2 linked regions of the Homo sapiens genome follow. The protein of the gene in region 2 interacts with the protein of the main gene of each other region in a pairwise test. Each region holds a gene or a part of one and is shown on either strand. Other genes may lie near its edges.

The links.
Region 1: the proteins of NUP214 (region 2) and NUP42 interact in a two-hybrid assay, tested with the Homo sapiens proteins (one study listed by BioGRID).

What each region holds. Positions count from the first base shown.
Region 1 is NC_000007.14:23,191,817-23,195,631, reverse strand, and holds part of NUP42 (nucleoporin NUP42), read right to left. Parts: intron 1-3,815.
Region 2 is NC_000009.12:131,229,786-131,233,600, reverse strand, and holds part of NUP214 (nuclear pore complex protein Nup214), read right to left. Parts: intron 2,972-3,815; coding exon 2,832-2,971; intron 1,318-2,831; coding exon 1,293-1,317; intron 148-1,292; coding exon 114-147; 3' UTR 1-113. UniProt on the Homo sapiens protein: Part of the nuclear pore complex. Has a critical role in nucleocytoplasmic transport.

The sequences.
Region 1 (3,815 bases), on a different chromosome or scaffold from region 2:
GGAAGATTTTCTAAAGATAAGTGGCGTAGAATGAACAACAAACACAGGAGAAAGATTTGACTACATTTATATTCAAACTTTTATTTTAAAAATTCTGCCAGAAACTATACTAAGCAAAATTACAAGGCAAATGGTACACTAGGAAAATTGCAATTTTAACATATATGACAAGAGAAGAACTAATGCCCTAATGTACAAATAGCTCTTACAAATAAATGAGAAAAGTAAATGAATTTGGGCAAAGATAATGAACAGGCAATTCACACACAAAAAAAATCAAATAGTAAATAAATGAAATAAAGTTAAATGCAACTTAAAATAGAGATAAAATGCTTTACTTATCAGACTGGCAGAAATTTTAAAAGCTGGTATTTACTGTTGTTCCAAATGTGGTGAAATGTATCATTTCCTAAATTACCGTTAAGGGAATTAAAATGGTACAAGTTTTCTGGGAGGGATAATTGTTAATAAGCATCACAAGCCTGAAAAACATTCATATCCTGTGACTTATAATACAATTTATAGGATTTAACCTTGGGAAATAGTTATATATGTAAACAAAGGTTGCTATGTATAAGGGTGTTCATTCTAATATTTTTAGTACCAGAGACAAACTGAAAGCAAAAATTAGAATATAAAACTAGGGCCGGGCACGGTGGCTCACGCCTGTAGTTGCAGCACTTTGGGAGGCTGAGGCGGATGGATCACGAGGTCAGGAAATTGAGACCATCCTGGCTAACATGGTGAAACCCCCTCTCTACTAAAAATACAAAAAATTAGCCGGGTGTGGTGGCATGAGCCTGTAATCCCAGCTACTCGGGAGGCTGAGGCAGGAGAATTGCTTGAACTTGGGAGGCAGAGGTTGCAGTGAGCCAAGACTGCGCCACTGCACTCCAGCCTGGGCAACAAAGCGAGACTCCGTCTCAAAACAAAAACAAAAACAAAAGCAAAAACAAAAAAAACTGGATTACAGCCGGGCGCGGTGGCTCACGCCTGTAGTCCCAGCACTTTGGGAGACCAAGGCCGGTGGATCACCTGAGGCCAGAAGTTCAAGACCAGCCGGGCCAACACGGCGAAACCCTGTTTCTACTAAAAATACCAAAATTAGCTCGGCGTGGTGGCATATGCCTATAATCCGAGCTACTCGGGAGACTGAGACTGGAGAATCGCTTGAACCCGGAAGGCCAGCCGAGGCTGTAGTGAGCTGAGATGGCGCCACTGCACTCCAGCCTGGGCAACAAAGAGCGAAACTCTGTCTCAAAAAAACAAAACAAAACAAAAAACAAAGAAAAACTAGATTATGATCCTAATCATATATATGTATACGTATATATGTATAGGTGAGAGGTGACAGCTTGCTGGCAGCCCTCACATTCCTCACTCGCTCTGGGTACCTCCTCTACCTGGGCTCCCACTTTGGTGGCACTTGAGGAGACCTTCAGCCCACCGCTGCACTGTGGGAGCCCCTTTCTGGGCTGGCCAAGGCCTGAGCTGGCTCCCTCAGCTTGCAGGGAGGTGTGGAGGGAGAGGCGCGAGTGGCAACCAGAGCTACCCAGGGCCCTTGCTGGCCAGCTGGAGTTCCGAGTGGGCGTGGGCTTGGTGGGCCCCACACTCAGAGCTGCCGGCTGGCCCTGCCGGGCAATGAGAAGCTTAGCACCCGGGCCAGCGGCTGCGGAGGGTGTGCTGGGTCCTCAGCAGTGCCGGCCCACCGGCGCTGCGCTGGATTTCTTGCCGGGTCTTAGCTGCCTCCCTGCGGGGCAGGGCTCGGGACCTGCAGCCCGCCATGCCTGAGCCTCCCCCTCACCTCCGTGCGCTCCTGAGCAGCCTGAGCCTCCACGAGGAGCGCCACCCCCTGCTCCACCGGCACCCAGTCCCATCGACCACCCAAGGGCTGAGGAGTGTGGGCACACACCGCGGGACTGGCGGGTAGCTCCACCTGTGGCCCTGGTGTGGAATCCACTGGGTGAGGCCAGCTGGGCTCCTGAGTCTGGTGGGGACTTGGAGAACCTTTATGTCTAGCTAGGGGATTGTAAATACACCAATCAGCACTCTGTGTCTAGCTCAAGGTTTGTAAACACACCAATCAGCACCCTGTGTGTAGGTCAGGGTTTGTAAATACACCAATCAACACTGTATCTAGCTACTCTGGTTGGGACTTGGAGAACCTTTGTGTCCACACTCTGTATCTAGCTAATCTAGTGGGGACTTGGAGAACCTTTGTGTCTAGCTCAGGGATTGTAAACGCACCAATCAGCACCCTGTCAAAACAGACCACTTGGCTCTCTGTAAAATGAACCAATCAGCACGATGTGGGTGGGGCCAGATAAGAGAATAAAAGCAGGCTGCCCCAGCCAGCAGTGGCAACCCGCTCAGCTCCTCTTCCACACTGTGGAAGCTTCGTTCTTTTGCTGTTTGCAATAAATCTTGCTGTTGCTCACTCTTTGGGTCCACATTGCCTTTATGAGCTGTAACACTCACCGCGAAGGTCTTCAGCCTCACTCCTGAAGCCAGCGAGACCACGAACCCACTGGGAGGAACAAACAACTCCAGACGGGCCGCCTTAAGAGCCGTAACACTCACCGCGAAGGTCCACAGCTTCACTCCTGAGCCAGCGAGACCACGGACCCCACCAGAAGGAATAAACTCCGAACACATCTGAACATCAGAAGGAACAAACTCCGGACACGATGTCTTTAAGAACTGTAACACTCACCGCGAGGGTCCGTGGCTTCATTCTTGAAGTCAGTGAGACCAAGAACCCACCAATTCCGGACACATAGGTATACATATATACACACATAGAACAACTTATACATCCCTGTACAAGTGGACCCTTGCAGTTCTGTTCAAAGGTCAACTGTACACACAGCTGTACAGGGTCCACTTGTACAGGGGCCACTTGTACAGGGATTTTCTTCCGCCTCTGCCACTCCTGAGACAGCAAGACCACACCCACCTATCCCTCTGCTACTCAACATAAAGACAATAAGGATGAAGACTTTTATGATGATCCACTTCCACTATGTGAATGGTCAATATATTTTCTTATCCTTATGATTTTCTTTTTCTTTTTTTTTTTTTTTTTGAGATGAAGTCTTGCTCTGTTGCCCAGGCTGGAGTGCAGTGGCATCATCTCGGCTTACTGCAACCTCGGCCTCCTGGGTTCAGGCAATTCTCCTGCCTCAGCCTCCACAGTAGTTGGGATTACAGGCATGCACCACCAAGCCCGGCTAATTTTTTTTGTATTTTTAGTAGAGATGGGGTTTCACCACATTGGCCAGGTTGGTCTCGAACTCCTGACCTTGTGATCCACCCGCCTCAGCCTCCCAAAGTGCCGAGATTACAGGCGTGAGCCACCGCGCCTGATCCGTTATGATTTTCTTAACATTTTCTTTTCTCTTACAGTACGTTATTAGTAGTTAAGCTTTTGGGGAGTCAAAGCTTATACGTGGATTTTTGACTGCACAGAGGATCAGTGCCGCTAAACTTTATGTTGTTCAAGGGTCAATTGTATACATAAACAAGAAATATGTTTGTGTGTGTATATGTTTCGAAAGAAATATACTAAAATGTAGTAGTTACCTCTGTGATATCAGGTTATTTTTATTTTATTTATATATTTCTGTACTTTCCAAGTTTTCTAAAGCAAAAGCTGTAACTTGTTTTTTATTTTTGAGACACAGTCTCATTCCTGTCACCCAGGCTGGAGTGCAGTGGCTCACTGCCGCCTTGACTTCCTAGGCTCCAGTGATCCTCCCATCTCAACCTCCTGAGTAGCTGGGACTATAGGAATGTGCCACCACACCCTGGTAGAG
Region 2 (3,815 bases):
GGTGTATGTGTTTTGATGGCAACGTCGGTCTGAACAGCCTGCTCCAGCATTTCTCGGGGAAGAAGCTGAGGATGCGGTTGGTCCCAGGGATCGAAAGGCCTGCTGACACGCCCTCAGCTTCGCCAGCCACCAAAACCCTGGACAGACCTGCAAGGAAGCACAGGACAGTGGTGGAGTCAGCTGCTCTGTCACAGAGCAGTCACAGGCTCTGCTGCTCTGCCTGTGTGCAAAGGTCAGGACTCAGATTTTTTATTATTATTTTTTTGATACAGAGTCTCACTCTATTGCCCAGGCTGGAGTGCAGTGGCGTGATCTCAGCTCACTGCAACCTCTGTCTCTCGGGCTCAAGTGCTTCTTTTGCCTCAGCCTCAGTGGCTGGGATTACAGGCATGCACCACCACGCCTGGCTAATTCTTGTGTGTTTATCTATATATGTATATATATATATTTTTAGTAGAGATGGGGTTTCACCATGTTGGCCAGGCTGGTCTCGAACTCCTGACCTCAAATATCTGCCCACCTTGGCCTGCCAAAGTGCTGGGATTACAGGTGTGAGCCACCGTGCTTGGCCAGTATATATATTTTTTTCTTTTGATATAGGGTCTGGCTGTCACCCAGGCTAGACGGTAGTGGTACCATCTTGGCTCACTGCAGCCTCAACCTCCCAGGCTCAAGTGATCCTCCCGCCTCAGCTTCTGGAGTAGCTGGGACCACAGGCATAAGCCAGCATGCACGGCTAATTTTTTTAATTTTTAGTAGAGATGGGGTCTCACTCTGTTGCCCAGGCTGGTCTTGACTCCTGGGCTCAAGCAATCCTCCCACCTCAGCCTCCCAAAGTGCTGGGATTATAGGCGTGAACCACCCACCTGGCTAAGACTGAATTTTAACGCCATGAAATTTTACACAGAAGCACAGAGGGTGGATCAACACATGAGACCTGGTGATGGCCCAGAGCCCAGGGGTTAGCATGCAGCTTCTGAGAAACCTCCAGGGAAGTCAGGAGCAGCATCTCCTCAGCGCTGCCCTCAGGCCCAGCTCACTGGCAGGCGTGCTCTTTTCTCTTTGAACCACGCCTCTTAAGAAGGCGAGGCCTGGCACCTCCTGCCATATTGCTACAGAGAAGAGCAAGTCCACAAAACCCAAACCCTGCTGCTGAACCCCCACACTTCCAGGACAAACTCTAAAAACAGGAAAAAACGAAAAGAAAATGCACAAATCCAGCAAGATCCACACACTTCCAACCTTATTTAATGCTTTTAATTAAGGTGAGACTCAAAAAGGGGGATACTTACGAGTTATTTGACCCAAAGCTGAACCCTGAAAAGCAGAATAAGAGTGAAGTTAAAGCACGCATCCACTCGAAAGACAAAGGTGGTCCCCATGCTAAGTGTCTGCCCTCCTCTGTGCTTCTTGTGGGAAGCCCTCCGTGCCTCCACCACCTACAGGAAGGCAGGAAAGGTACACACAGAAGCCCCTTTATTCTGAGTTTGTCCTCTGGAGCTACTCAGATCCCCCAGAAGGCAGAAAAAATCCTTTACTTTTTATGAGTTATCTTCTTGGTATTTTAGGGTTCTTCCTCCCTCCTCGGCCCCAGCTGTAGGCAGAGGGTCTCTGGCTTGGCCTCTCAGCTGTACTGGACCACATAGATCCATTCATTAGGAAAACCTTTTTTTTTTTTTTTTTTTTTTGCTGTTGTTGTTTTTCCATCCATTTGCTTCCTCTTCTTTTTGGGGGCCAGAGAAGCAAGATGGCTGGATTCTAGGCCTGGTTCTACTGCTAACTGCTAACACTTAGTTCCTTGGAGTTTCTGTTTCTTCACGGGTACAATTGTAATGATACCTAAATTCTGTGCCTTGTCAGTTTACTGCAAGAACAAAATGGAAGACACATATTCTGCCATCTGAAGAAGCAGAGTGTTAAACAAATGCAAGATGTTTTGTGAAGTTTCTATGCCTTTTTTTTTTTTTTTGAGTCTGCTGGCTTAGATTTTTTAAACCAAGGCCTAGTAAGACCATTATTATTTTGGGCTTCTCAAATCCTGAGAGGAAATCAAGACAGTAATTTCTTTGGTAAGAAATGACACAGTGTTCTAAGTCTAACTAAAACCTAAAAAAAAATATATATGCCAGGTGCTGTAATCCCAGCACTCTGGGAGGCCGAGGTGGGTGGATCATGAGGTCAGGAGATGGAGACCATCCTGGCTAACACAGTGAAACCCCATCTCTACTAAAAACACAAAAAATTAGCCGGGCCTGGTGGCGGGCGCCTGTAGACCCAGCTACTCAAAGGCTGAGGCAGGAGAATGGCGTGAACCCGGGAGGCGGAGTTTATAGTGAGCCGAGATTGTGCCACTGCACTCCATCCTGGGCAACAGAGCGAGACTCCGTCTCAAAAATATATATATATATATATGTTTCAACCACTTTCAGTATGTTACATATTTATTTATTTTGAGACAGGGTCTCATTCTGTCACCCAGGCTGGAGTGCAGTGGTGCAATCACAGCTCACTGCAGCGCTCAAGTGATCCTCCTGCTTCAGCCTCCCGAGTAGCTGGGACCACAGGTGTGTGCCACCATGTCTGGCGAATTTTAACATTTTTTGTAGAGAATGGAGTCTTGCCATGTTGCCCAGGCTAGTCTCAAACTCCTGGGCTCAAGTGATCCTCCTGCCTTGGTCTCCCAAAGTGCTGGGATTACAGGCGTGAACCACGTGCCCAGTCAGCTTTTAAAATACTAAACAGACTGGTCAGGTAAAACATACTCATTTCTTTGGGGGAGAAGGCAAGAGGGACCCATTTTGCTTGTGAGGGGAGAACTTGTGGCAGCTTACCTCCTGTGCCTGATCCAAAACCAGAGAATCCGCTACTCTGGGTCCCAAAACCAGAAGTCTGTTGGGACAGTGATCCGAAAGTGGGGGCATTCTGACTCGCGAGCGTGCCGAAGGATGTGGTGTTGCTGCTGCTCCCAAACCTGCGCTCCAGTGAGAAACAGACTGAGGTCAGTGGGGCCTCTCACCACTTGCCCATCTGCAAGCCTCAGCCCCCTGCTGTAAGTCCCAATACACACGACACTCATGATCCAGGGTGACAGGCTGGGCCTAACTAGCAGCCTTTCAGAGAGAATGAGCTATCGCCCAGGGCCAACTTTTATCTCTGCTCTAGGAAGAAAAATGGCAGGACTACAGTATGAAATCCAACCTGGCCAGTGTTTTAGTTTCCATCCCCCATTGGAACACCAGGGCATTTGGGAACTATGCAGTACACAGTTCCTGCTCTACCTCCAACAATCCTTAAGCTTTATTCTATCATTTTAGCATTTCTCACTTACCGACCATTCCCCCACATCCTGCTCCCATTTATTTATCTTCAGCTCCTCTTGGGATCTTGATTCTATTTACTTTTTCCAAGTCATTTCATTCAGGATTTTGTATTTGCTTCCTGAATCAATAATTACTACCCAAACCAATGTAAAAGTGGCCACTATTTTCCTTCCCCTGCTCGCCCCACCTGGAGACAATCCCCTGTGCCCCCTCACTCAGTTCTCCCTCCAGATATGGTCCAGCACACAAGGTGGCACTGTGTGACCTATCAGAGCCCCTTGAATTGTTTGCAGAGGAACTCGGCTGGGTTGGGGAGAGCTTCTGGGGTCTGGAGGTGACTAGGTGAGGGAAACGGATCAGTGGTTTCTGGGAGAAGGGGCAGCACCTGGGGGCAAGAATCAACCCCAAAGCAAGAAAAAGTATCTAAAACTCTGCCTTCCCACCATTCTATTCACTTTTAATGGTGAGGTCAAGGCTCTTTCCATACAAAGGTGG